6 separate regions of the Homo sapiens genome follow, and all the other regions are linked to region 4. The links come from fine-mapping of genetic effects on gene expression. A gene starts in region 4. Each other region holds a variant in brackets. All regions are shown on one strand. Distances are from middle to middle. Region 1 overlaps MFSD6 (major facilitator superfamily domain containing 6). Region 2 overlaps NEMP2-DT (NEMP2 divergent transcript). Region 3 overlaps MFSD6 (major facilitator superfamily domain containing 6). Region 4 holds the start of MFSD6 (major facilitator superfamily domain containing 6). Region 5 overlaps NEMP2-DT (NEMP2 divergent transcript). Region 6 has its middle 26 kb from the start of MFSD6.

What was found.
Region 1: its variant is fine-mapped to the expression of MFSD6 in whole blood (TOPMed, PIP above 0.99).
Region 2: its variant is fine-mapped to the expression of MFSD6 in whole blood (INTERVAL, PIP 0.94).
Region 3: its variant is fine-mapped to the expression of MFSD6 in monocytes (Quach 2016, PIP 0.95).
Region 5: its variant is fine-mapped to the expression of MFSD6 in monocytes after LPS (Quach 2016, PIP 0.95).
Region 6: its variant is fine-mapped to the expression of MFSD6 in whole blood (TOPMed, PIP above 0.99).

The regions. Positions count from the first base shown.
Region 1 is chr2:190,439,138-190,443,226 of GRCh38, reverse strand. The region is part of intron 3 of MFSD6 (major facilitator superfamily domain containing 6); the gene reads right to left. It also overlaps a transcript of NEMP2 not described here. Among named protein-coding and RNA genes, the nearest start is that of MFSD6, 33 kb to the right of the region's middle. The variant A/G (reference allele first, on the strand shown) is at 1,970.
Region 2 is chr2:190,606,008-190,610,096 of GRCh38, reverse strand. All of the region lies in intron 4 of NEMP2-DT (NEMP2 divergent transcript), which reads right to left. It also overlaps a transcript of NEMP2 not described here. Among named protein-coding and RNA genes, the nearest start is that of NAB1, 41 kb to the left of the region's middle. RefSeq lists an enhancer at 1,308-2,507. The variant C/T (reference allele first, on the strand shown) is at 1,943.
Region 3 is chr2:190,427,548-190,431,636 of GRCh38, reverse strand. All of the region lies in intron 2 of MFSD6 (major facilitator superfamily domain containing 6), which reads right to left. It also overlaps a transcript of NEMP2 not described here. Among named protein-coding and RNA genes, the nearest start is that of MFSD6, 21 kb to the right of the region's middle. RefSeq lists a silencer at 2,615-2,814. The variant G/ACG (reference allele first, on the strand shown) is at 2,410.
Region 4 is chr2:190,406,098-190,410,186 of GRCh38, reverse strand. MFSD6 (major facilitator superfamily domain containing 6) reads right to left here and starts at 1,832. Exons shown (of 8, transcript NM_017694.4): 1 at 1,684-1,832. RefSeq lists a silencer at 1,212-2,251 and an enhancer at 2,512-2,561.
Region 5 is chr2:190,633,827-190,637,915 of GRCh38, reverse strand. The region is part of intron 4 of NEMP2-DT (NEMP2 divergent transcript); the gene reads right to left. It also overlaps a transcript of NEMP2 not described here. Among named protein-coding and RNA genes, the nearest start is that of NAB1, 13 kb to the left of the region's middle. RefSeq lists enhancers at 394-463, 1-733. The variant T/A (reference allele first, on the strand shown) is at 1,924.
Region 6 is chr2:190,380,592-190,384,680 of GRCh38, reverse strand. No RefSeq gene overlaps it. Among named protein-coding and RNA genes, the nearest start is that of MFSD6, 26 kb to the left of the region's middle. The variant A/G (reference allele first, on the strand shown) is at 1,911.

The DNA of each region.
Region 1 (4,089 bases), 33 kb before region 4:
ATACAATCCTTAAAGTCCTGTTCCTTTTATTTTTTTTCTCCCTTGCTTATGTCTTAGGCCCACCTAGGAACACCCACAGAGGGTTCCTGGCTCAGGTGATGATATTGGGGGGTGCTCAGAAAGTCCATTGCTGCTAAAACAATATATAGAAACAGGTTACGGTAATACCATAATGACAGTTCCATATAACACAAAATATTCTCAAGCATAAGGATACTTACTTTAAGCAATAAAGCACAGACCAACATTTCAATAAATCAGAAACTTGAAATACTATCTTGGAGACAATTATAATTGATTTTCCTCAGCCCATTTCTCTTCTTAGACGACAAGATTTCCTTGTTGATCTTATCCACATTCCCGATTTTCACTGCTGCAAATCTGCATCCCGTCCTAACCTCTCCTATAAGCTTCAGACTTACAATATTGTGTCAACTGCCTGCTAGACATCCCCATCTAGATGTTTCAATTTCAAACCAAACAATCACACCCCCACCCCATTCTACATCTCCTTTCTGAATTTCCTATTAGATTTTTGGAATTACCATACCAAGCTGGAAATGTAGGGGTCTCTACCTCACTTCCACATCCAAATAATTCTGTCAATTTTACCTCCCAGATCTATTCCTTCCCTCAATTTCTGTTGCTACTGCTGCAGTTCAGGCCTGTACCGTCTCTTACTTGGACTATTTTAAGAACCTTCTCAGTGGGCTCCTGGCTTCAAAGTTACCCTGCATAGCAACATTCAAAGCAGGGAGGAACATATGAAAATCTATGGTCCTCCCTGCTTTGAACCTTGCTATGGCTACCTACTGCCTCCAGATGAAATTCAGGTTACTGATCCCAGCATCCATCTGGCCTCAGTCTCTCCTGTTTTTTCCAACACGCTTCCCTTTAGTATTCAGCCCCTGCATCTTACTAATCTGAGGCTCTTTGGGCCTAAATAACTGTTCAACTAAATTGAACAAATGTCTAGGATTTTGATTTTTAAGTAATATAGAATAATACTTGGTCCTCTAGAGCATGTAGAATTCATAATTCCAAATTTACTATGAGAATTAAGTCATCTTTTAAAACATTTTTATTGTGGTAAAAACCATTTTTAAAGAAGAATTAATCCTCCCTTAAGGAATCAGAATGGGGAAAAAGTTATTTAAGGTCTACCATCTTTTTGCTTTTTAATCAATAATTGAGTTATTCTATTTGTATTCTGTTTCTTCACAGTATCAATTGCCATCAGGAGTCTTTGTAAGTAGTGAAGAGTGGTGGATCAGGATCTCATCAGAGGCAGGCACCAATCTGACTTAATTCAGGGACTTGGTTAGGTAGGTGACAGAAAAGCTGGGAAGCCAGACCACTGTGAGAACCACAGGCAGCCTCTCCACGGCCTTGGGCAGAAGAATAAAGAGAGGAGAGAATGTTGTTGGAGCTCAGGGCCACCCACAGTGGGTGGGGCATAGGTGAGACGCAGCAGCTCACAGAGGTCTCTAGAGCTGAGGAGACAAGGCTGAGAGTCTGGGAAGCGGGACAGAGTACCCACGTGGAGAAAGCTACAGAGAGAGAGGACTGTAGAGATCTGTAGCTTCCCTAGAGTCTTCAGCTGAGTACTGACCAGCACATGTACATAAGTAAACTACAAGAGGCCAGAGAGAGGACTAGAGGGAACCATCTCCAAATCTTACACAAACATGCTGCATGAGCTGGAAAGAGAAATATAAATGCCCTGCTTTCCCCCCAACCCCCGCCCCTCCTCCTTTCCTGTAATCCTCCCCTTACCTATGCCTCCCATTAGCCTGGTGGTTCTCAACCTTGGCTGCACAAACTAGAATCAACTAGGAAGCTGTAAAAACGTTGAATGCCTCGGTACACCCCTAGAAAGACTGATGTAATTGGTCTGGGTGCAACCTGGGCATTAGGAGCTTTAAAAGCTCTCTTGGTGAGTTGAGAACCAATACATTAGCCGAACCCA[A/G]GTAGAAGACACGAGAACAGACCCTGGAAAACATAGCCTACAGAAATCAGCACCCTTTCATACGGGGCAAGGAGAGGATCTGAGAGCCTGTGGGCCTAAGATCAGCAAAGATGGCACAAAGAGATGGGTAGAAATAAGATGATGAGAAGAAGGAGAAAAAAAAGTAGGCATGATCTTCCTTAAACCCTTCAGTGGCCAGCTCACATTGAACACCCGGCTGCAGAGTTTCTTCCCTCTTATAATACTTACTGCTATTCCTCCAGTGACCAGACTATCATGTGCCACCTCCCATGTGTCCTTGGCTGTGCTGAAGCCCAGCATCTTGCTATCTGTTCTGGTTCATCCTGCAGCATCCCATCAGGAAACCCTGGTGTTCCTCCTCTTACTAGCTGCATCAGGTATTTTCTTCTTTCCCAAACTGACTGGCTAGTTCATTTGTATATTTTGCTAATATTAAGTAGTAATTGATGGCTAATAATAGGTAATGTAACCCCCCCGGATAATATTTGCATGGCAAAACAGACCTTGAGTGTAAGAATTTCAGGGCAAAGTCACAGATTGATTGAATAGATTTTTCTGTGTCCCTTAAAATGTAAATAAATTTAAATCAAATAACATAGGGGATGGCCTAACATTGGAAAGTAATGATTTACAAATTTACAAATGATTTACTGCAATGTATTTTGATTATAATCCTACTCATAGCTGCTAAAATGTTAAGCAATGTGAAGATACCTTAAGATACATTTATATCCTGTTAATCATTTATAGCCTAAAAATATACTTGCTGTAAATTCCAAAGTCTTATGATTTTGGATCAAAAGAAATTTATTTTTAAAAGTGGAAATATTTAGCATTATTATCCTATTTGCCTGAGAAAGTCACCTTCCAGAGAAGGACAAAATCCAAGGTCAAAATCAGAAATCAGATACTCTATGTGTGTGTGTTTAGACTGACAGGTCAGTCCCTGAGAAACTGGTTGTATATTGTGAAACTGTTAAAATACTGAGTTCAAAACTGGACATGCTATTTTTAAAAAACTATTTTCTGGTATGAATCTTTCTTATTATTACTCTAGATGAAGAATTTGTGAATCTCCACAAATATATGGTAGTGCCAACTCCTAAAAACAAACTTCCAACAGGACAACCACAAAGTACTGAAATAATATACATGCATGCATAAAGGCCATGGGCAGATCTACTTCTGTGATCCTACAAGCAACACATCAAGGCTCATAATTCAGAGATCATTTCTCTTCACCAACTACTTAATGAATGGTATTCTTCCAGTGGAAAGTTTAAATCCCCAAATCACAACCAATACCACCTGACTGAGCTCCCAAAATTATCACTAAAAGGAACAGATCCATTCTACCTAAGTATGTGGACATATTCTCATTTTAGCTATCAGACTCTTTTAAAAGCACTTGAAATAATTAATACATTTTAATGGACAGAATGAAAATTCAAAACAGGTAAATGACCACATACTGATGGAATTCCCACAGACTCTTGGGAGCAATATGACCATAACAGCCATCTTCTTCCATCACATTATTAAACAAGAAATGGAAGATGCTTTTTGTCCGTAAAAACCAGAAAATTAAGGTTAAGTGAATTTTGAAATGATGAGTAACTAATACTACACAGGAAAGAAACACACAAGTCTAAGCTTACCAAAGGAGTAGTAAACCCACTAGGATTTTATCATGAAAATGCTGCATATGTCTCAGACAAAAGGCAAAGGTAGAAGAGAACCATCTTTTCTTAGCATGTGGAAATAACCTAACAATTCCTTTGAAAATAGAACCTATCTATACACATGCAACAAATCTGCACGTTGTGCACGTGTACCCTAAAACTTAAAGTATAATAAAAAAATAAACAAATAAAACGTGAAAAAAAAGAAAATAGAACCTAAACACATACTCTGTACTGAGTCAGTGTTCAACTCATGCTATTGACTTATTAAATAATGATGTCTAAGAACTCCACGCATTGGTAAGACCTAACTGGGTACCTTTCTGGGAATGAATAACAGTGATTTTAAAGACATTATTAACTGCAGTGAGATTTGCTCATCTGCCCAAGCTGAAGGGAGGCATCTGATTCATCTCG
Region 2 (4,089 bases), 200 kb before region 4:
GATTAAATTCTAATTTTTTGGCTACAGGTCTCCAAAATAATGTTTTCAATTTTTCCCTTTTTCTTTTCCTTTTCCCCCATTCTTCCTAATTGGAAATCACTGAAACCTGAGCTGTGCTTTCGTAAAGCCCTGCAAACTTAAGACTAGACAACTTAAACTTTAGAAGAAAACAGCAGCAACCTCTTTATATGTGTTGCTGTTGCATACTATTCTAGGCCCCCGAAATAGAGCCAATAGAGGGAACAAATCAACCACCTCCACTCCAGCACTGCATTCAGTCCCCATAATGATGACCCTCTCTCAGCAGGAAGTAGCCAGAAAGATTATGATGCCCCATATCCCTATGATCTTGTGATAAATAAATATACAAGCATGATAGAAATCATGCACAAATTGACAGTGGTGATTGTGGCAGGCCAGGTCTCACTAATGCAGGCCTGCATTACAACAACTGTCCCAGCTCTGACTGAGTAGCTAGGTTAAACATTAAAAGCTGATTGAGCCAGTGCCCTTATACAAAGGCTGGAATGTAACAAAGAGCCCACCAAGAGTTTTGCCTAGGCTTTTCATGGGCCTTGAAGTTTGACAAGATAATGAAGGAATTCTTAACAGGACCCTTTTAGGATTAAACAAGTTTTATTGGGGGGTCTGAAGAAACTCCTCGGGCCTCCACAAACAAGTTTATTGAGATCTAAAGGAACTCCCCAAACCTCCATGATTTAGCAGGAGACAAGATAAGGGTAATCACCCCAGCACCTAGACCCATTTAGATTAAGTAAACTTACTGAGGCTCTAGAAGGTCTTCAGGACTCAGACCTTAGTTATAGATTAAAAGAAGTTAATCACTTATGTCTTTAGATTAATTCACTCAGTTACACATAGACATATAGCTTAGAAGGTATATAAGCTCTGGAAAACTTTGTAATTTTGAGTTGGTCTGGCAATAATTTCCAGGCCTTCTCCCTGTAACTGGTTACAGAAATACTCTCTTCGTCCCCAGTTCATCTGCATCTCATTATTGGGCCACGAGAAATAGCAGCCCAACCCCCATATTGGTTCAGGAACAATGCCAAGAGCATGCTGTAATCCCCTCTATACAGTAGTCCCCCTTATCTTCATAGAATACATTCCAAGAACTTCAGTGGAGCCTAAAGCTGCAGATAGTACCAGACCCTATATATATTTTCTTTTTATACATACGTACCTCTGATAAAATTTTTTTAATAAGGTTCAGCTAACAGATTAACAATAATAACTAATAATAAAATAGAACAATTATACTACAGTAAAATCATACGCATGTGGTCTCTCTCGCTCCTTCAAAATATCCCATTGTTCTGTATTCCTGTGGCAACAGCTTCTTCATTAGCAGACACAGCCTCTCTAGTAATTTATATATTTTTCAGTCCAAACCTATTCCTGAATCTGTTAACTATCCCTTACTTGCAATAAATGGCTTGGTGTCACTCGTTTCAGGGGATCCCTTGCTGTAGGGATCAATGCTTGTCTTCATACAGGCTCAATGCTTTCTGGTGCAACGTGTTGCCAATCAAAACACATTTCTTTTAATGTCTCCCACCTGCAAACTGAATGCCTTTTTCATCTTAACTAAGCACTTATCATACTCTATGGCCATGACGTTTACAGTTTGAGGTGCTGTAACCAGCACAAATATATTTTTCTTTACAAATTCACGGGTAAAAGATTTGTTCTTATAAATTTTGTTAATTTCAGCAATTTTTTTTTCTTTCCTTGTTAAGTCAAGAACTTTCACCTTTTCACTTAAGTGAAGCACTTTATAGCTTCTCTTTGGCATATACGAATTGCCAGCATCACTACTCTCGCACATTGGGACCATTATTAAGTAAAATAAGGATTACTCGAACACAAGCACTGCGATACTGCAACAATCTGATAGCCAAGATGGCTACAAAGTGACTAA[C/T]GGATGGGGAACGTGTACGGCGTGGGTACGGGGGACAAAGGGATGATTCACATCCTGGGTGGGACAGAGCAGGACAGCTTGAAAGTTTACACCCTACTGAGAACGTCACACAATTTAAAACTTATTATTTATTTCTGGTGTTTTCTATTTAATATTTTTGGACTGCAGTTTACCATAGATAACTAAAACTGCAGAAAGCAAAAGTACCAATAAGGAGTGACTACTGTACACCAGTCTTCATCTCAGAGTCTGTTTCCAGGGAAGCCCACCCTGAGGGAATGAGTGTTCACATCTATAAAATACAGGGGTTATGCTATCAGAAGCATGAGTCAACAAAAGAAAAATAGATTGTACTTCAAAATGAAAAGCCTTTGTAATTTTACCTGGAAATGGCTGGAGGTGATGATTGCACGGCAACTGACTGTACTTAATGCCACTGAACTGTGCTCTTGAAAATGGATAAAATAGTAAATTTATGTTATGTCTAATTTTACCACAATAAAAATTAATTAATTTTAAAAATACAGGAGTAAGGTTGGATGTGCTTTTGGTTTCCTGCCCATGCTAAAGGTCCACAATTACTCTGAGTTACTTGGCAGCCAAATCTGGGTTGGTGTGATTTCAGGGGCTAGACTGTAGCATTTCTCAATCTTGGCTGTGTATTAGAATCACTTTGGATTTAAAAAAAAATGATGCTTCAGTTCTGCCCATAGTAGTTCCTGTGTAATAGTCTAGGGTCATGGCTTTGGTATTTTTAAAAGCTCCCAGTGATTCCAGTATGCAAACGCAGTTGAGCCTTACTGGGCTAGAAGAACCACAGCCCACTCCTTACCACCCACTTGCTGTTGCCCCTGAGATTTGGCCACCTGCTTATCCTTCCAGCCTCATCTTTCTGACTCCCTCCTACACATACCCAAGCTGCAGCTGAACCAAATGACTTGTCATTTATCCTCTCCTGTCAAACCCTGACTCCTATTCCCTTGCTCATGTTTCCGCTGACAAGATTACATTCCTCTGACTGATTCCAGCCCTCGTGAACCCCTTCTTGGGAAACTTGCCTTCAGCACCCGCCATGGGCTGTTCAGATGCCTCCACTCTGAACCCTGGAAGTGCCTCACATGTCAGCACCTATACTGAGGACTCTGGATCAGCACACCAGAGCAGGGATCAAGTCTTCCTCCCTGCATTCCCGGTACAAGGTAGGAAGCCAGGCACCAAGGAAGCTGCCAGTAGGTCTTATTTGAATAAGATTTCTTTAATAAGAGGTCATTTGCTCCACAATTAAATAGAAATTCTTAAAGTAAATGCATTGGGAAAAATTAGCATATCTGTATAAATAAGGCATTTTTAAAAAAAATTAATTGAGCTATTATTATATGCCTGGGATTGTGCTAATGCTTTACTTGGAGTTTCTTGTTGAATTTTCTTTTCTTTTTTATTTTTTTGAGTCAGCGTCTCACTGTGTCGCCAGGCTGGAGTGCAGTGGCACGATCTTGCTCACTGCAACCTCTGCCTCCCAGGTTCAAGCAATTCTCCTGTCTCAGCCTCCCAAGTAGCTGGGATTACAGTCCTGCCCCACCACACCCGGCTAATTTTTGTATTTTTAGTAGAGACGGGGTTTTGCCATGTTGGCCAGGCTGGTCTTGAACTCCTGACCTCAGGTGATCTGCCTGCCTTGGCCTCCCAAAGTGCTGGGATTACAGGCGTAAGCCACCATGCCTGGCCTCTTGTTGAACTTTCACAGCAACCTTAGGAGGCAGATACGATACTTTTCATGTTCGAAATGAGGAACTAATTTCAGACAAGTGAACTTGGCCAGGATCACAGCTAGTGTGCCGCAGAGCTGGGAGTTTCAGTTGGTACACAAGTGATGTTTCCAGAGCCTTCCTGATTTGGGGAAGAGGACAGGAAAAATTTAGGTCACTGGGAATCTAAAAGGAGGAGAGGGGCTGTAACTAGTAGGAAAAAGGAAGTTAGAAAAAAAGGCCACTGAAAGAAAAGACAAACTGTAATCTTCCCTATTTTGGTCCGGCCTTAGCTTAACTGTGAGTGAGTATTTAAATCACAAGCGCAAGACTGGAAGGTGGACACTGTGAAACTCTTGTTCCTCAGATACATTCCATTGAATTCAACCCAACAACATTTAT
Region 3 (4,089 bases), 21 kb before region 4:
CTGCAACCTCCCTGCCTGATTCCCCTGCCTCAGCCTGCCAAGTGCCTGCGATTGCAGGCGCGCGCCGCCACACCTGACTGGTTTTCGTATTTTTTTGGTGGAGACGGGGTTTCGCTGTGTTGGCCGGGCTAGTCTCCAGCTCCTAATCGCGAGTGATCCGCCAGCCTCGGCCTCCAGAGGTGCCGGGATTGCAGACGGAGTCTCGTTCACTCAGTGATCAATGGTGCCCAGGCTGGAGTGCAGTGGGGTGATCTCGGCTCGCTACAACCTCCACCTCCCAGCTGCCTGCCTTGGCCTCCCAAAGTGCCGAGATTGCAGCCTCTGCCCGGCCGCCACCCCGTCTGGGAAGTGAGGAGCGTCTCTGCCTGGCCGCCCATCCTCTGGGAGGTGAGGAGCCCCTCTGCCTGGCTGCCCAGTCTGGGAAGTGAGGAGCGCCTCTTCCCGGCCACCATCCCATCTGGGAAGTGAGGAGCGTCTCTGCCTGGCTGCCCATCGTCTGAGATGTGGGGAGCGCCTCTGCCCCGCCGCCCTGTCTGGGATGTGAGGAGCGCCTCTGCCCGGCTGCGACCCCGTCTGGGAGGTGAGGAGCGCCTCTGCCCGGCCGCGACCCCGTCTGGGAGGTGAGGAGCGTCTCTGCCCAGCTGCCCCATCTGAGAAGTGAGGAGCCCCTTCACCCAGCAGCCGCCCCGTCTGAGAAGTGAGGAGCCCCTCCGCCCGGCAGCCACCCCATCTGGGAAGTGAGGAGCGTCTCCGCCCGGCAGCCGCCCCGTCCGGGAGGGAGGTGGGGGGTCAGCCCCCGCCCGGCCGGCCGCCCCGTCCGGGAGGGAGGTGGGGGGGGCGCCTCTGCCCGCCCGGCCGCCCCTTCTGGGAAGTGAGGAGCCCCTCTGCCTGGCCACCACCCCGTCTGGGAAGTGTACCCAACAGCTCATTGAGAACGGGCCATGATGACAATGGCGGTTTTGTGGAATAGAAAAGGGGGAAAGGTGGGGAAAAGATTGAGAAATCGGATGGTTGCTGTGTCTGTGTAGAAAGAAGCAGACATGGGAGACTTTTCATTTTGTTCTGTACTAAGAAAAATTCTTCTGCCTTGGGATCCTGTTGATCTGTGACCTTACCCCCAACCCTGTGCTCTCTGAAACATGTGCTGTGTCCACTCAGGGTTAAATGGATTAAGGGCGGTGCAAGATGTGCTTTGTTAAACAGATGCTTGAAGGCAGCATGCTCCTTAAGAGTCATCACCACTCCCTAATCTCAAGTACCCAGGGACACAAACACTGCGGAAGGCCGCAGGGTCCTCTGCCTAGGAAAACCAGAGATCTTTGTTCACTTGTTTATCTGCTGACCTTCCCTCCACTACTATCCTATGACCCTGCCAAATCCCCCTCTGCGAGAAACACCCAAGAATGATCAATTAAAAAAAAAAAAAAAAGAATGAGGACTATGCAGCCATAAAAAGGATGCGTTCATGTCCTTTGCAGGGACATGGATGAAGCTGGAAACCATCATTCTCAGCAAACTGACACAAGGACAGAAAACCAAACACCACATGTTCTCACTTATAGGTGGAAATTGAACAATGAGAACACTTGGACATAGGGCAGGGAACATCACACACTGGGGCCTGTTGGGGGGTGGGGAGCTGGGGGAGGGATAGCATTAGGAGATATACCTAATGTAAATGACGAGTTAATGGGTGCAGCACACCAACATGGCACATGTATACATATGTATCAAATCTGCACATTGTACACATGTACCCTAGAACTTAAAGTATAATAAAGAAAAAAAAAGAACAAGAGCAACAATACACAGATATATGTATCTGACATCATATACAAAAATGAATTCCAGGTAGATTATAGGTTTAAAAGTCAAAGATTAAATAACATAGCTTTTAGAAGAAAACATAGAAAAATATCTTAAAGATTTATAGATAGGAAAATATTTACTAAATAAGACACAGAGTATATTAAACATTAAAGAAGAAAAAATAATTGAACTACATTAAAATTAAGAATTTCTGGCTAGGTGCAGTAGCTCATACCTGTAATCCTAGCACTTTGGGAGGATCACCTGAGATCAAGAGTTCGAAACCAGGCTGGCCAACATGATGAAACCCCGTCTTTACTAAAAAAATACAAAAATTAGCTGGGCATGGTGGTGGGTGCCTGTAATCCCAGCTGCTTGGGAGGCTGAGGCAGGAGAATCGCTTGAACCCAGGAGACGGAGGTTGCAGTGAGCCGAGATTGCACCACTGTACTCCAGGCTGGGCGACAGAGTGAGACTCCATCTCAAAAAAAAAAAAAGAATTTCTGTTCATAAGCTACCATTAAAGATTGAAATGGCAAGTCAAAGAGTGAGAGAAGATATTTTGGTGATATATGTATACACACACACACACACACACAC[G/ACG]TAACAAAAGAATTATACAGATATATAAAAATTTATTCTTTAAAATCAATAGAAAAAAATCAGTAGGAAAATATCAGGTAACCCAATAGGAAAAATAAGCAAAAAGCTTGAATAGGCACCTCACAAAAGAGCCTATACAAATGGCCAATAAATATGTAAAAAGATGATCAACTTGATTAATCGCCAGTGAAAGCATTAAAACCAGAATACAATAATGTAACATACTCTAAAAATGGCTGAAATAAAAAAGATTGAGGCTGGGCATGGTGGCTCACACCTGTAATCCCAGCACTTTGAGAGGCCGAGGGAGGTGGATCACTTGAAGCCAGGAGTTTAAGACCAGCCTGGCCAATGTGGCAAAACCCCATCTCTATTAAAACTAAAAAAATTAGCCAGGCATGGTGGCAGATGCCTGTAATCCCAGCTACTCGGGGGGCTGAGGCAGGAGAATCACTTGAACCCAGGAAGCAGGGTTGCAGTGAGCTGAGATAGCACCACTGCCCTCCAGCATGGGTGAAAGAGTGCAACTCTGTCTCAATAAATAAATAAATAAATAAATAAATAAATAAATAAGCAAGCATCTCTAAATGTTTGAGTGCCAACATGATACTCAAAGGAGATGCACATTGTAGCATTTTTGATTTTTGGATTTAGAAGGCTGAACAGGTAAGTATAAAACAAATATTCTAAAATTTGAAAAAATTCTAAATCCAAAATACTCCTGGTCCCAAGCATTTTAAATAAGGGATGCTCAACCTGTAATATCAAATGTTGATGAGGATGTGGAGCAACTAGAACTCTCATAGATTGCTGGTGGGACTGTAAATTGATACACTACTTTAAAAACTGGGAATAGCTACTAATCCTGAGTGTAAGACCCTATGACAACCAAAAGATATGTATATTCACCGAAAGACATCTATAAACATGTTCACTGCAGAATAATTTTAATGGCTCAAAACTGGGAGCAACCTGTCTACAGCAGATACATAAATTGTAGTATTTCCATCCAAAGAAATACTGTGCAACAGTAAAAATGAACAAACTACAACTACATGCAGTGACAAGGATGAATCTCACAAACATAATATGGACTAAGAGAAGCAGGAAACAAAAGATCACTGAACACATGATTCCACTTATGGAAAAATAATAAACAGGCAAAACTAAGTTATGGTATTAAAAGTGGTAGACATGGCAGGGCACAGTGGCTCACGCCTGTAATCCCAGCACTTTGGGAGGCTGAGGCAAGTGGATCACCTGAGGTCAGGAGTTCGAGACCAGTCTGATCAACGTGGTGAAACCCCATCTCTACTAAAAATACAAAAATTAGCTGGGCATGGTGGCAGGCACCTGTAAGCCCAGCTACTCAGGAGGCTGAGACAGGAGAATCGCTTGAACCCAGGAGGTGGGGATTGCAGTGAGCCAAGATTGTGCCATTGCACTCTAGCCTGGGTGACAAGAGTGAAACTCTGTCTCAAAAAAAAAGAAAAAAAAAAAGTGGTAGACTTCTTTTCCAAGAAGATGGAGTAGACACAATTTTCTCTATCACTTCTGCTAAGTACAACTAAAAACCCTAGACAATAATATATAAAGTAAACATAGAAGACTCTGAAAGATAGACAAAAAAAGGCAGACCAGCTATGGACCTTGGTACCCAAGGAACAACACAAGTATGAG
Region 4 (4,089 bases):
ACTGTTAATAGTCCAGACACTATATATGATGGAATTGGTGATCCAATACTCACACCACCAAATACCTGTGAACTCTGCTTTTTGTCTTTGTGTTTTATTTGCCTTCACGCTTTTATATTTATTTGTATAGAGATGGAAAGTGCCTTAGAAATAAACTGCTGTAAACATGAAGGACACACAACTACTTAGTAGCTTTAATGCATTATTGAAGTGATGTTCTCTCCTCCTGTTTCCCCAGAGCATCCTGCACTGGGCTCATTAACAATGTCCCATCCTTCCCCTAAGCAATCCTAAATTTTACTTACACCTCGTGATAAATACAAGCCATCTGACTATCACTAAACAGCTGACCATATCCTGCACCTCTGCTAGCAGCTTGACGTGTCAAAAGCCAAGCTTCCCAAAGAGGAGGATCCTATCCTTTTACTTAACAAGGCTAAAACAGATGCATACACTTTTAGCTGGCTAGTGCCCACATCTTGGGGAAAGGACCTACCAAGTACACATCTCCTTTTATTACATATTTTAGTCAACTGTATGTCCACCCACCCTTCACATTCATCTATACTTAAGAGGTTAGATTTCTAGAAAATCATGGACTTCTAGAAGGATTAGGGGAAATTTTGGCCACTATAATATCCAACCATCCTCTTTTCCATGTGAGAAAACTGGGGCTCAGGAAGATGTGACATGCCCAAGCACACACATCTATTTAAATACCAGTTGGGATTAGAACCCCAACTCTTTAAGTCTTTTGCACACTAATAAGCAAGGTATTATATGTTCCAGTAGTTCTGTGAGGTGCTTATTCAATCTTTTTGGGATGAAAAGAAACGTCCGTGGTTGCGAATGCATAAAGGTAATTAACCCACCTGTCTGTCCATGTGGGGATGGGATTAACGAGGGGGAAAGTTGCGTTTGTATTTTTCCACCATCTTACCTAAATTTGCAGGAAAATTGCTCTATGGGCAATAAATATGACCCAGAAAGACTAGCAACCCCCAGTAGTATCTCAAAAGGGCTCCAGAGACATGTTAGACCAAGTGGAAGTAAAGCACGAGGTGGGGGATGTCTGCTAGGATGGTGGCTGGCAGAGCAGAGGTATTTTTTTTTCCGTATTTATTAACCTGGGAGGGCAGACGTTGTCAATTTCCTCCTCCTGCCACACAAGTGGCCGCGTCCTTGTCACTGGGGCTGTGTGGAGGTTCTCACCTCCTCCTTTTTCCCAGGGATGTTTATGGCGAGGGCGCGGGTCGGCCCGGGCGGAGGAGGACCCGGGCATCGGCGCTCACCCTCCGTCCCCACCCGCGGCAGCAGCTGTGGGCGCCCGGCGAGGGCTCCCTGGGCAGCGCCTTTGTTTTCCCGACTCCAGTTACGTTTGCGGAAGTGCTGCCAGCACGGGGCGCGCTGGGGGCGCAGGCGGCAGCCTCCCCCAGCACCCCACAAAGATGACACCCGACACGGAAGCCGGGGGAGGGAGGGAGGGAGGGAGCGGCGGGCGAGCGAGGCCCGAGCGGAGACAGCGGCGCACGCTGGGCTCCGAGCCCCGGCCCCGAAGCCCCTTTCCCGGCAGCAGGTGTGCGCGGCTGAGGTGCCTACCCGCCCTCCGGCTGGGCCCGTGCGGGGCGGGGGAGGCCAGGGCGGGTCTGCGAGCCCCTTCTCCGCAAGCCGGGCCCGACTCACCTGCTGCGGCGGCGGCAGCGCTCAGCTGCGCGGGGCGCGGGGAGCCCTGTCCCCGGAGCACGGGGCGGCGGCTCGGGGCGCCGGGGCGGCGGCTGTCGGGGCAGCGCGCACCATCCCGGGCTGCTCGCGCGCTCCTCCGGGGCTGCGACGGGCTGGGCGGGGCGCGGCGAGGCGAGGCGAGGGATGCGGACCGGGTGGGGCCACGGAGGACGGAGGCGGAGGGCCCAGCGCTCCCGCCGGCGCGACCTTCTCTCCCGCTGCGGCTCCTCCTCCTCCCCGGCCCCGGCCTCACAGTCGCCGCCGCCGGTCACTACCGGCTGGACCCGTTTCAGGGCCGGGCGCTGAGGACCGGCCGCCAGGTGCAGCGCTCCGCCTCCTGCGGCGGCGGCGGATGCGTCGACTGCCCGCTCCCGGCCTCCAGCCCGCCCCGGCGGCCCGGAGGGACACCTGAACCCAGCCGGGCCCGGGGAGCACGCTGAGGAGGCGAAAGCACTGGGCGAGGCTCCATCCCTACCGCACCCTCCACCCCCCCGCACCCCCAAGCGACTTCCGCTGAGCCCCCAGGCAATGAGTGCGGGCCAGGAAATGTGGGGGAAAATGTACTAACATCCCTTATTCCTTGAGCGCCTTTTAAGTGGCACACACAATGCTAATGCTGTCAGTGCGTTATCTCCGCGTCTGTCCCAGGTTGACCCGGGAGGGAGGAGCCGGCGGGGTGCGGGAGACAAACGATCTGTGAGTTTCGGGGCTCACCAAGAAGGGGGAACACTGAGACGAAGGCACCCTTTTTCAGGAAGCTGCTACTGGCATCTTGCTGAAAAGCCAACCGTGTGTGTCGCACTAAGAATATAATTAAAGTTGTATTTCTAGTTAAACACGCAGAGAGTTGGGGGAGAGTGGAGTATTCACTTGGCAAGTATGTCTGTGTGCCTGTGATGGGCTTTGGGGGATGCCACATCCTGTTCTTAAGGAGTTTATTGTCTTGTTCTGGCAACAACGACAAGAGTGACAATGGTAGCTAACGGCAACAACGACAAGAGTGACAATGGTAGCTAACGCTTATAAACATCGATTATGTACGGGGCACTGTGTAGGTACTCTTTGAGCCTTATAACCCTATAGGTGTAGGAAACGTTATTCCCATTTTACAACTGAGGAAAGCCGAGGCTGAAAGTTAATGTGACCCATCCAAAGTTACTAAACAGCGAAAGGGAAAGCAGGCTTCTTTTGTCTCCAGGCTTTAAGCTCTTAACCGTGAAATCATACTGGTAAGAATTTGATAGGCCCTGAAGTTTCTGAATTTTGAGTCCCTCTTTAGGAAGAATAAAACAATTACAAATACGAAGTTTCTAGGGCCCCTTCCTGAGCTTATGAAGGGTCTCTGAAGCTTAAACTATAGTAGCCTCATGCTAAATCCACTTTCAATATTGACGTAGATATTCAATCATTTCTTTCTCCAGGCATTTCTTTCTCCTGTCAGGAACACGAGACACTGGTCCCCTCCTTGAAACTCTTCCCTTCTCTTCTTTTGGTGCTCCGTAAGTGTTGGATTTTCCTCCTTGAAACTCTCCCCTCCTCTGCCTTCTGTGACCCACAAGTCTTGGGTTTTCCTCTTCCTCTCTGGCCACTCCCCTTTGCTCCACTTGAGTTTTAGTTTTCCTTGGGTTTTGTTCTAGGCTTTCCTTTCTTCTGATTCTGTTTGTTTCTGCGAATTCTCTCACTCCTTGGCTTCAATCACAGAATATTTGAGGGTGCTCCAAAAGCCCTCTCTCGGGGTCAGCTTTTCTCCTGAGGGCCAGATCCTTATGGCCAGTTGTCCAGTGGGATGTGTCACAGGCACCCCAACCTCACTAAGTGCCACGTCAATGTTTCTTTACCTTCTGTTCTTCCCCTACTCGTTTTTTTTTTTTAAGATGGAGTCTCACTCTGTCGCCCAGGCCGGATTGCAGTGGCGTGATCTCAGCTCACTGCAACCTCTGCCTCCCGGGTTCAAGTGATTCTCCTACCTCAGCCTCCTGAATAGCTGGGATTACAGGCATGTGCCACCATGTCTGGCTAATTTTTGTATTTTTAGTAGAGATGGGGTCTCACCGTGTTGGCCAAGCTGGTCTCAAACTCCTGACCTCAAATGATCCCCCCACTTCAGCCTCCCAAAGTACTGGGATTACAGGTGTGAGCCACTGCACCCGGCCCCTCATTCACTCTTGCTTCTGGGTTCCCAGACTCTGGGGTCCCAAACAGCCATCCACCCAGTTGTACAAGGCCCTTCTTCTCAATGCTCCTTTCACCCTTATACCCATGCCCAGTGTATTAGTTACCTATTGCTGCTGTAACAAGTTATCGTAAACTTTGTGGATTAAAACACACATTTATTATCTTACGATTCTGGAGGTCAAGAGTCCAAAA
Region 5 (4,089 bases), 230 kb before region 4:
CTACTTTTCCTAAGATGTTTATACCTGGAGACTATTTGCTTGTTCAACAATTAAGCACTGACTGAGGGATACACACTAAGCCTATAAGCACAAGAAAATTAAATCTCTGCCCTATTTCCTGGTCTAGAAAGCGGAATACACATGTAAACAAGCACTTGCACACATTATAAGATGTTCTTAGTCACACAAAGAAAGAGTGATGGTTCTGGTTTGGGTAGGGCAGAGGGGTGAAAGTCAGTAGGCCTTGTAAGCAAGCAACAATTGGACAGGTCTGGAAGGATGAAATTAATAGACTCAGGAAGTGCAGGCACTCCCCAGCAAGTACAGAAGCACAGAGGCAGTGAGGCAGCATAAACATGAGCAGTAACTTAGGGAAATTATTGTGAAATGAAGCATAACTGATTCCAAATGACTTGAGAATTACATGTGAAGAGGGCAGAGGCAGAAGATGAAATTGTAGAGACCAAATTGTGCAGGAGCCACCTCTGACACGCTAAGCAGTGTGGACTTTATCTTGTAGCTGTAGTTCTCAGCACCAGTGAGTGCAAGAATCAAGCTGTGAGTGTCAGACATGAGAATAGTAGATACAACTAAGAGAAGAGAGAAATGATTGAAAGGGGAACAAGGGGGCTTCTGAAGTGCTGGCAAGCAAGGCCCTCTTTCTTGTTCTGGACCATGGTTATGTGGATGTTCACTTTGTAATCATTGAACTGCACATTTATGCTTTCTGTACTTACTGTACACTATACTTCTCAATTGTGAAAAAGTATTTTTAAGAAAATCAAGCTGGATTATTTATTGAAAACAGATTCCAGGATCTCCCTGTCAGACATACTGATTAAGTAGGCCTGGGCTGGCACTTGGGAAATCTGTACTTTTTAAATGATTACCTTAGTGAAGGATCTGAAGCCAGAAGGGACCCCTAGACCACACTTGGAGAACACTGCTAGCCCTTTTGGGGAGCCATCGAAAAGATTTAAGCAAGATGCTAAGAACAGAGATTTGTCTGTCTGAATGTTCTGGATAAAGGGGGAGGAAGAAGTTGAGGGTGGCCTCCACCTTATGCCTTATTAGCACTTGCAGGTTCTGTGTCCCATTCCTTTTGTGTTTTTAAGAGATGTGACAAATAAGGTGCTAATGACTTATAAGTACTAAATATGATTTTTGAGATGTGTTTTCTTTTGGAGTTTTCTTAAATATGAAAATTTTGGACTTCAGCACTTTAGTAGCTGAATTTGAGACATGGAACAAGCCCCTGGGGTAGATATTCTGGGGTAGGGAGCAACTTTGTAGAATTTCTTAAATGAGGGCATTCTCAGCCTGTGAGTCATAGTTGTTCCACTACTGACCTACCGTCATTACGACATACGCTTAGTGATGATTGATTTGCATGGATGCAGTTAAATTCATTTTCTTATGCCCCTGTATAATCAGAGGGATATTTTTGAGACTTAAAGCCTCCAATATGGTATTCTTCCAAACTTTAATCCTTCTGAAAAAAATATAACAAGTTTTGTTGCAAAGTTTTTCCTTTGCTGCTGACAGTGATGGAAATAGAAAGAGGAAACCTTACTTGGCCTTAAGCAGAGAATGAGAAAATCCAAAAATCTGACACAAAATTTGCACAGATTTTTTTTCCTCATAATTAAAGTACTAAGGAAATGCCATAAGATGATTCTTTGTGAGCAGAGCTCATCCATTCATCAGATCAGTAAAAATTTTAAAAGTCTGACAGCACAAAGTGTTGGCTAGGATTAAGAACATAGAAACTGCCTTTAATTCCAATATTTTGGGAGGCCAAGGCAGGAGGATCACCTGAGTCCAGGAGTTAGCAACTAGCCTGAGCAATATAATGAGATCCCGTCTCTACAAAAAATAAAAACTTAACCAGGCATGATGGCACACGCCTGTGGTTCCACCTAG[T/A]GGGGAGGCTGAAGTAGGAGGATTGCTTAAGCCTGGAGTCCAAGGCTGCCGTGAGCTATAATCATGCCCCTGCACTCCAGCCTGGGCCGCAGAGTGAGAGCCTGTCTCAAAAAACAAACAACATAGGAACTTACTTCTGTTAAGAGTATAAATTGGTACAAACACTTTGGAGAGCAATTTGGTGGTATTTAGTTAAGTTAAAGGTGTGCATACTCTGTGACCCAGAAATTGCACTCCTAGGTGTAGTCTCTGAGAAGCTCTCTTACCTGTGCCCAAGGAGATACATACAAGAATATTCACAGCAGCATAGAAAAAATTGGAAATGATGTATATTAGATCAACAGAAGAATTTATGGGTAAATTGTGAAATATTCAATGAATATAGCTCTGAAAATGAATGAAATAGATATGCATATCTCCCATGGAAGAATCTCACAAACAAGATGTTGATCAAGTTGACCAAAAATCAAGTTGCAAGACCAGACGCAGTGGCTCATGCCTGTAAATTGGGAGCACTTTGGGAGGCCAAGGCAGGAAGACTTCTTGAGGCCAAGAGTTTGAGACCAGCCTGGGCAACACAGCAAGGCCCTGCTCTACAAAAAATAAAATTAGCCAAGCCTTGGTGGCACATGCCCATGGTCCTAGCTACTCAGGAGGCTGAGGTGGGAGGATTCCTTGAGCCCAAGAGTTGTAGGCTGCAGTGAGCTATGACTGCACCAATGCACTCCATTCTGGGTGACAGAGCAAGACTCTTGTCTCTTAAAAAAAAGATTGCAGATGAATGTGTAGAATATATTTCTATCTAGGTTAAAAACTTGCAAATGCTATTGTTGTGTGGGAAACAACAACCATTGTTGCTGCAATGGTAGCCTGTAAGTACACTAACAGGCAAGCTATTCAAGGGATCACAGAACAAGAAAGGCTTATGGACCAAAACAAAATCCTCAAATCACGTGGCTTATTAAATCAATTTAAAACACACCATAAGAAGCTAGGTGAAAGACATGGAGGGGGTTAACACATTTAAGATGTGTCACAGGAGGCAGGGTGGAAAGATGACAACACCTGAATCCTCAGTCCTGTCTCTCCCTGCCACATCAGCCTTCCTAACCAAGTGTTTGCTTGCAAAGATCAGAGTTGAGATTTAACCAAAGCAGCCCAACAGACGGGTGTTTAGGGTCAAAACACACAGTTGCTCTAAAGTCTTGGGAGCAGAGTGGGTCTAGCTGACAGCAGTAGCTCATCAGTTAACCTCATGAACAGCTATGGATTTTATTTATATTTCTTTTGCAGAGGATATGAGGAGCCAACGGTTGGCCAGATTAAAACCTTTTGAATAGGGAATGCCTGATATGCCTTAAGTATCTTCAGTGCGTCATGAAAGTTGGATGATTCAGGGCCTCACATGTATCATGACTATTAGGTGTTTCTTGTTCTTTCCATCTCTTTCTAATTATGTTCATTACGCAAATGCACTACTACATTTTGTAGGAATTTTGCTTGTTTCATAAGCTACTTGCTTCAATTCTTAGTTTCATTTTTTTCTCCCTATGTGTTTGTTTCTCTTATTTTGTATAGCAGAATTGAATATTCTTAAATAATTAAACAAACACACATTATAAATACATATGTAATATGGTTAAAATAAAAATAAATGCTTAGAAAGATTAATCCCCAAGTTCAGGATTTGCCTAACTATGGTAGAGGCATAAAGGGGTGCATTAAGGATGGAATTTACAGGACTTCAGTTATATTGGTAATGTTTTGTTTCTTAATATGGATGCTGGGTATGTGGGTGTTTATTATATTATTATTTATAATTTTATGCATCTGAACTTTTTAAAAATAAATTTAAGAAAAGTTTGAAATAGTAAATACCTGGAGTCTTACAACAGACATTTGATACTTTTCTTTTTTTTAAGACACAGAATCTTGCTTTGTTGCCCAGGCTGGAGTGAAGTGGCACAATCATAGCTCACTGTAACCTCAAACTCCTGGGTTCAAGCGATTTTCCTGCCTCAGCCTCCCGAATAGCTACAACTATAGGCATGTGACCACCATGCCTGGCTAATTTTTTAATTTGTTGTGGAGACAGGGTCTTGCTTTGTTGTTTAGGGTGGTCTTGTATTCCAGGCCTCAGGTGATCCTCCTTTATCAGTCTCCTGA
Region 6 (4,089 bases), 26 kb after region 4:
CTTGTAAACTTTTGAATTGATTTAATTATTCTTCTAGACACAAGTCCTTCATCAGATATGTATTACAAATATCTTCTGCCATTCTGTGGTTTGAATCTTTATTCTTTTACTCATAGAAGAAAAACAATTCTAGGAACATTGGCTAAAATGTTCTCAGTAGCTATGCTTGAATGTTGGATTTTTCTCCTCCTTTTTACTTCTCCATATTTTTCCAGTTTTTTAAGGATTATTTAATGACAATTTAAAACACAATAAAGGGAACGAATTGGTTAAGGAAGATGGTTTATTTAAAATGATGCAAGCTGGGCGCCGTGGCTCATGCCTGTAATCCCAGCACTTTGGGAGGCCAAAGTGGGTGGGTCACTTGAGATCAGGAGTTCGAGACCAGCCTTGCCAACATGGTGAAACCCCGTCTCTACTAAAAATACAAAAATTAACCGGATGTGGTGGTGGGCACCTGTAATTCCAGCTACACGGGAGGCTGAAGCAGGAGAGTCTCTTGAACCTGGGAGGTGGCAGTTGCAGTGAGCCAACAGAGATCACACCACTGCACTCTAGCGTGGGCAACAGACCAAGACTTTGTCTCAAAAAAAAAAAAAAAAGGGTCGGGCGTGGTGGCTTACACCTGTGTAGTCCCATCATTTTGGGAGGCCGAGGCAGGCAGATCACAAGGTCAAGAGATCGAGACCATCCTGGCCAACATGGTGAAACCTCTTCTCTACTAAAAATACACAAAAAATTAGCCGGGCATGGTGGCACGTGCCTGTAGTCCCAGCTACTCGGGAGGCTGAGGCAGAGAATCACTTGAACCTGGGAGGTGGCAGTTGCAGTGAGCCAACAGAGATCACACCACTGCACTCTAGCGGGGGCAACAGACCAAGACTTTGTCTCAAAAAAAAAAAAAAGGGTCGGGCGTGGTGGCTTACACCTGTGTAGTCCCATCATTTTGGGAGGCCGAGGCAGGCAGATCACAAGGTCAAGAGATCGAGACCATCCTGGCCAACATGGTGAAACCTCTTCTCTACTAAAAATACACAAAAAATTAGCCGGGCATGGTGGCACGTGCCTGTAGTCCCAGCTACTCGGGAGGCTGAGGCAGAGAATCACTTGAACCTGGGAGGTGGAGGTTGCAGTGAGCCCAGATCACACCACTGCACTCCAGCCTGGGTGACAGAGTGAGACTCTGTCTCAAAAAAAAAAAGAAGAAAAAAAAAATGCCGGGCGCGGTCTCACACCTATAATCCTTGCACTTTGGGAAGCCTACGTGGGTGGACTGCCTGAACTCAGGAGTTCCAGACCAGCCTGGTCAACTTGGTGAAACCCAATCTCTACTAAAAATACAAAAAATTAGCCGGGCGTGGTAGCTCTTGGCTATAGTCCTAGCTACTTGGGAGGCTGAGGCAGAGGAGAACCACTTGAACCCAGGAGGCAGAGATTGCAGTGAGCAGGGATCCTGCCACTGCATTCCAGCCTGGACGACAAAGCCAGACTGTCTCAAAAACAAAAACAAAAAAACATGATGCAGTTAAAAAGTGACCCATTGAAGAAGTTAGCCAAGACAAGATGTTTGCCACAATTTGCCTTTAATGTTGCATCTGCACCTGCACAAATCTGCTAGAGACACCTGGTGGAGAGTGTTGATAGGTTTACAGCAAGTGTTAGAATGTGCTGAATGTACTTGCTTACTTACAAGATGAGAAATGTACTAATGCACATCCTGGTTCCCTTATTAACTCAGCTTTCAAATAACTGGAAAGAGCCTTCAGATGGGGCAAGCCTAGCTTGCAAGTGGGCTGTGTTTGGGCCTCACTAGCAAATATGACAAAAATTTAGATAGAACAAAAGACAGTAAATTCAGAAGTAGAACTGGGACTTATTTGGGGCTGGCTACATAATTTGTGAGACCTAGT[A/G]TAAAATGAAAATGTGGGGCTCCTTGTTCAAAAAGTAGGGAGAAAAGTATCCTTACAGGCACATAAAGGAAAAAGAGTTTTACTCTCTTCCATGGTCTCTCTCAACTTGACATGGTTTTTGGGTTTTGGGAGTTTTGTTGTTTTGTGTTTGTTTGTTGCTGTTTGATATCATTATAGATAAAGAAAAATAACAATTTTAATGATTAGTCTGAACTTTAATATTCATGTTTACCTCATGCAATGCCAATTTTTCTTTTTTTCTCTCTCTCTTCTTGCTCTGTCGCCCAGGCTGGAGTGCAGTGGTGCCATGTTGACTCACTGCAACCTCTGCCTCCCAGGCTCAAGTGATCCTCCCACTTCAAACTTCTGAATAGCTGGGACTACCGGCATATACCATCACGCCCAGCTAATTTTGTATTTTTAGTAAAGATGGGTTTTGCCATGTTGACCAGGCTGGTCTCCAACTCCTGACTGCAAGTGATCCACCCGCCTCGCCCTCCCAAAGTGCTGGGGTTACAGGTATGAGCCACCGTGCCCAGCCCAATGCCAGTTTTAAATGCAGATTGGAGAGTATTTAACTCATATGTGGTATCACCAAAATTACATAAATCATTTTTCACAGTTCACACATGAATATATATATTGTTCTTACCATAACAGTGAAAACATTGCAGGAAACTAACTCAACTCTTTTTATTTCACTTCTTGATACCCCGGCATTCTACCAGCCCTCCCTACCTTCAGCTTACTGGCAAGGAACTGAAAAGGAAAGGAACTATGTGTGGTCCTATCTTTACCTTTCCTTTTGTGCCATCATTTCAGCCTATGTGATTGGCTAATATAGGAAAATAGCACAAATAAGAAAGGACATGGGAGGTTTCCTTAGTTTTCCTGTTTCTTAGAATGCCATTGCCTTGTTTTTGCTTTGGAAGCAGGTTCTGGTTCTGGGAACTGTCAGTGCCCCCACTTGCTCAGTCATCAGCAATGTAATGCACTTACCATGCACTTGCTTTGAGTCTCATTGAACCCCCATACAACATAGGTCCACAAGAATTCTGTGCTCACAGGTGCTGTGAACCCTATGTGACCAGAACTGCAAGGGGACGAAGCACACACATTTTGTACATTTCTCCTCCTATTTGGTATGGCTACAATAAGAAGATGATCAAAGTATGATTTCAGGAATCACATGGTTTATTGCCATACAAAGAGATTCTTTTTTTTAATGCTCAAAGAGGGGGGAAATAACAAGAACAAATCTCGCAGAGATTATACTCCGCAGATGAGGTACATTATCCACATAATTAGTTATAATTTCATTTCAAGTCCAGTGATTACAGTTTAGTTGCTTAGAATGGAAGTAGGCCTCTGTGGATGTGAGGGAGATCCGAGACAACTTGTAAGATCCCTGGACACTAGCAAGTGGTGCCAGTGCTGTGTGGGCTGGCGAGGCTTTGAAAGCTAGCTCAAAGGCTGACAGAGATTAGCCCTGTTGCAGCCTGAGCTCTCAATCTGTCTGCCAAAATCTTGGGTTTATATGTGTTTTGGAGTCTAGTCGTTGAGGCCAATAACTCACATATGTGGTCTGGAAAAGTGTGATGTAACATTCTGACAGGGAAGGGGACTATGCTCCATGTTCTTATCACAGCAAAACATCTGTCACTTAACGCAGAAAGTGTTTGGAATATTTTCAGAGCTACGTAACACCTCCATTCATGCACATGCTCCATTGCCCCTCCATTCACTTACAAAACTTATGAATTTGAAGGTAAAATTTTTAAGAACTTCAACATGGCAATAGCAGAACCAAGCATGGCACATTTTTGAGGGTGGAGCTTTGTGAGCCGGCACAGGTCATAAGACCATATAGCCAGCCCAGGACTGGTTTGCTTTTTGCAAATGGGTAAAGGGAGAAAGCTCTTAATCCTACATGTTCAAGGCTCCTTTAAGATGAGGAACTTTGAAAATACAGGCTAGAAAAGAAAAATCATATTTAGAATTATAGGCATTTTGTTAGAGCCAGAACTTGGGCTAGCCTTGAGTATCAGATAGAAATAATAAATACATAAAACCTGTTTTGGCTGGGCGCGTTGGCCCATGCCTGTAATCCCAACACTTTGGGAGGCTGAGGCGGGTGGATCACCTGAGATCAGAAGTTCAAGACCAGCCTGACCAACAT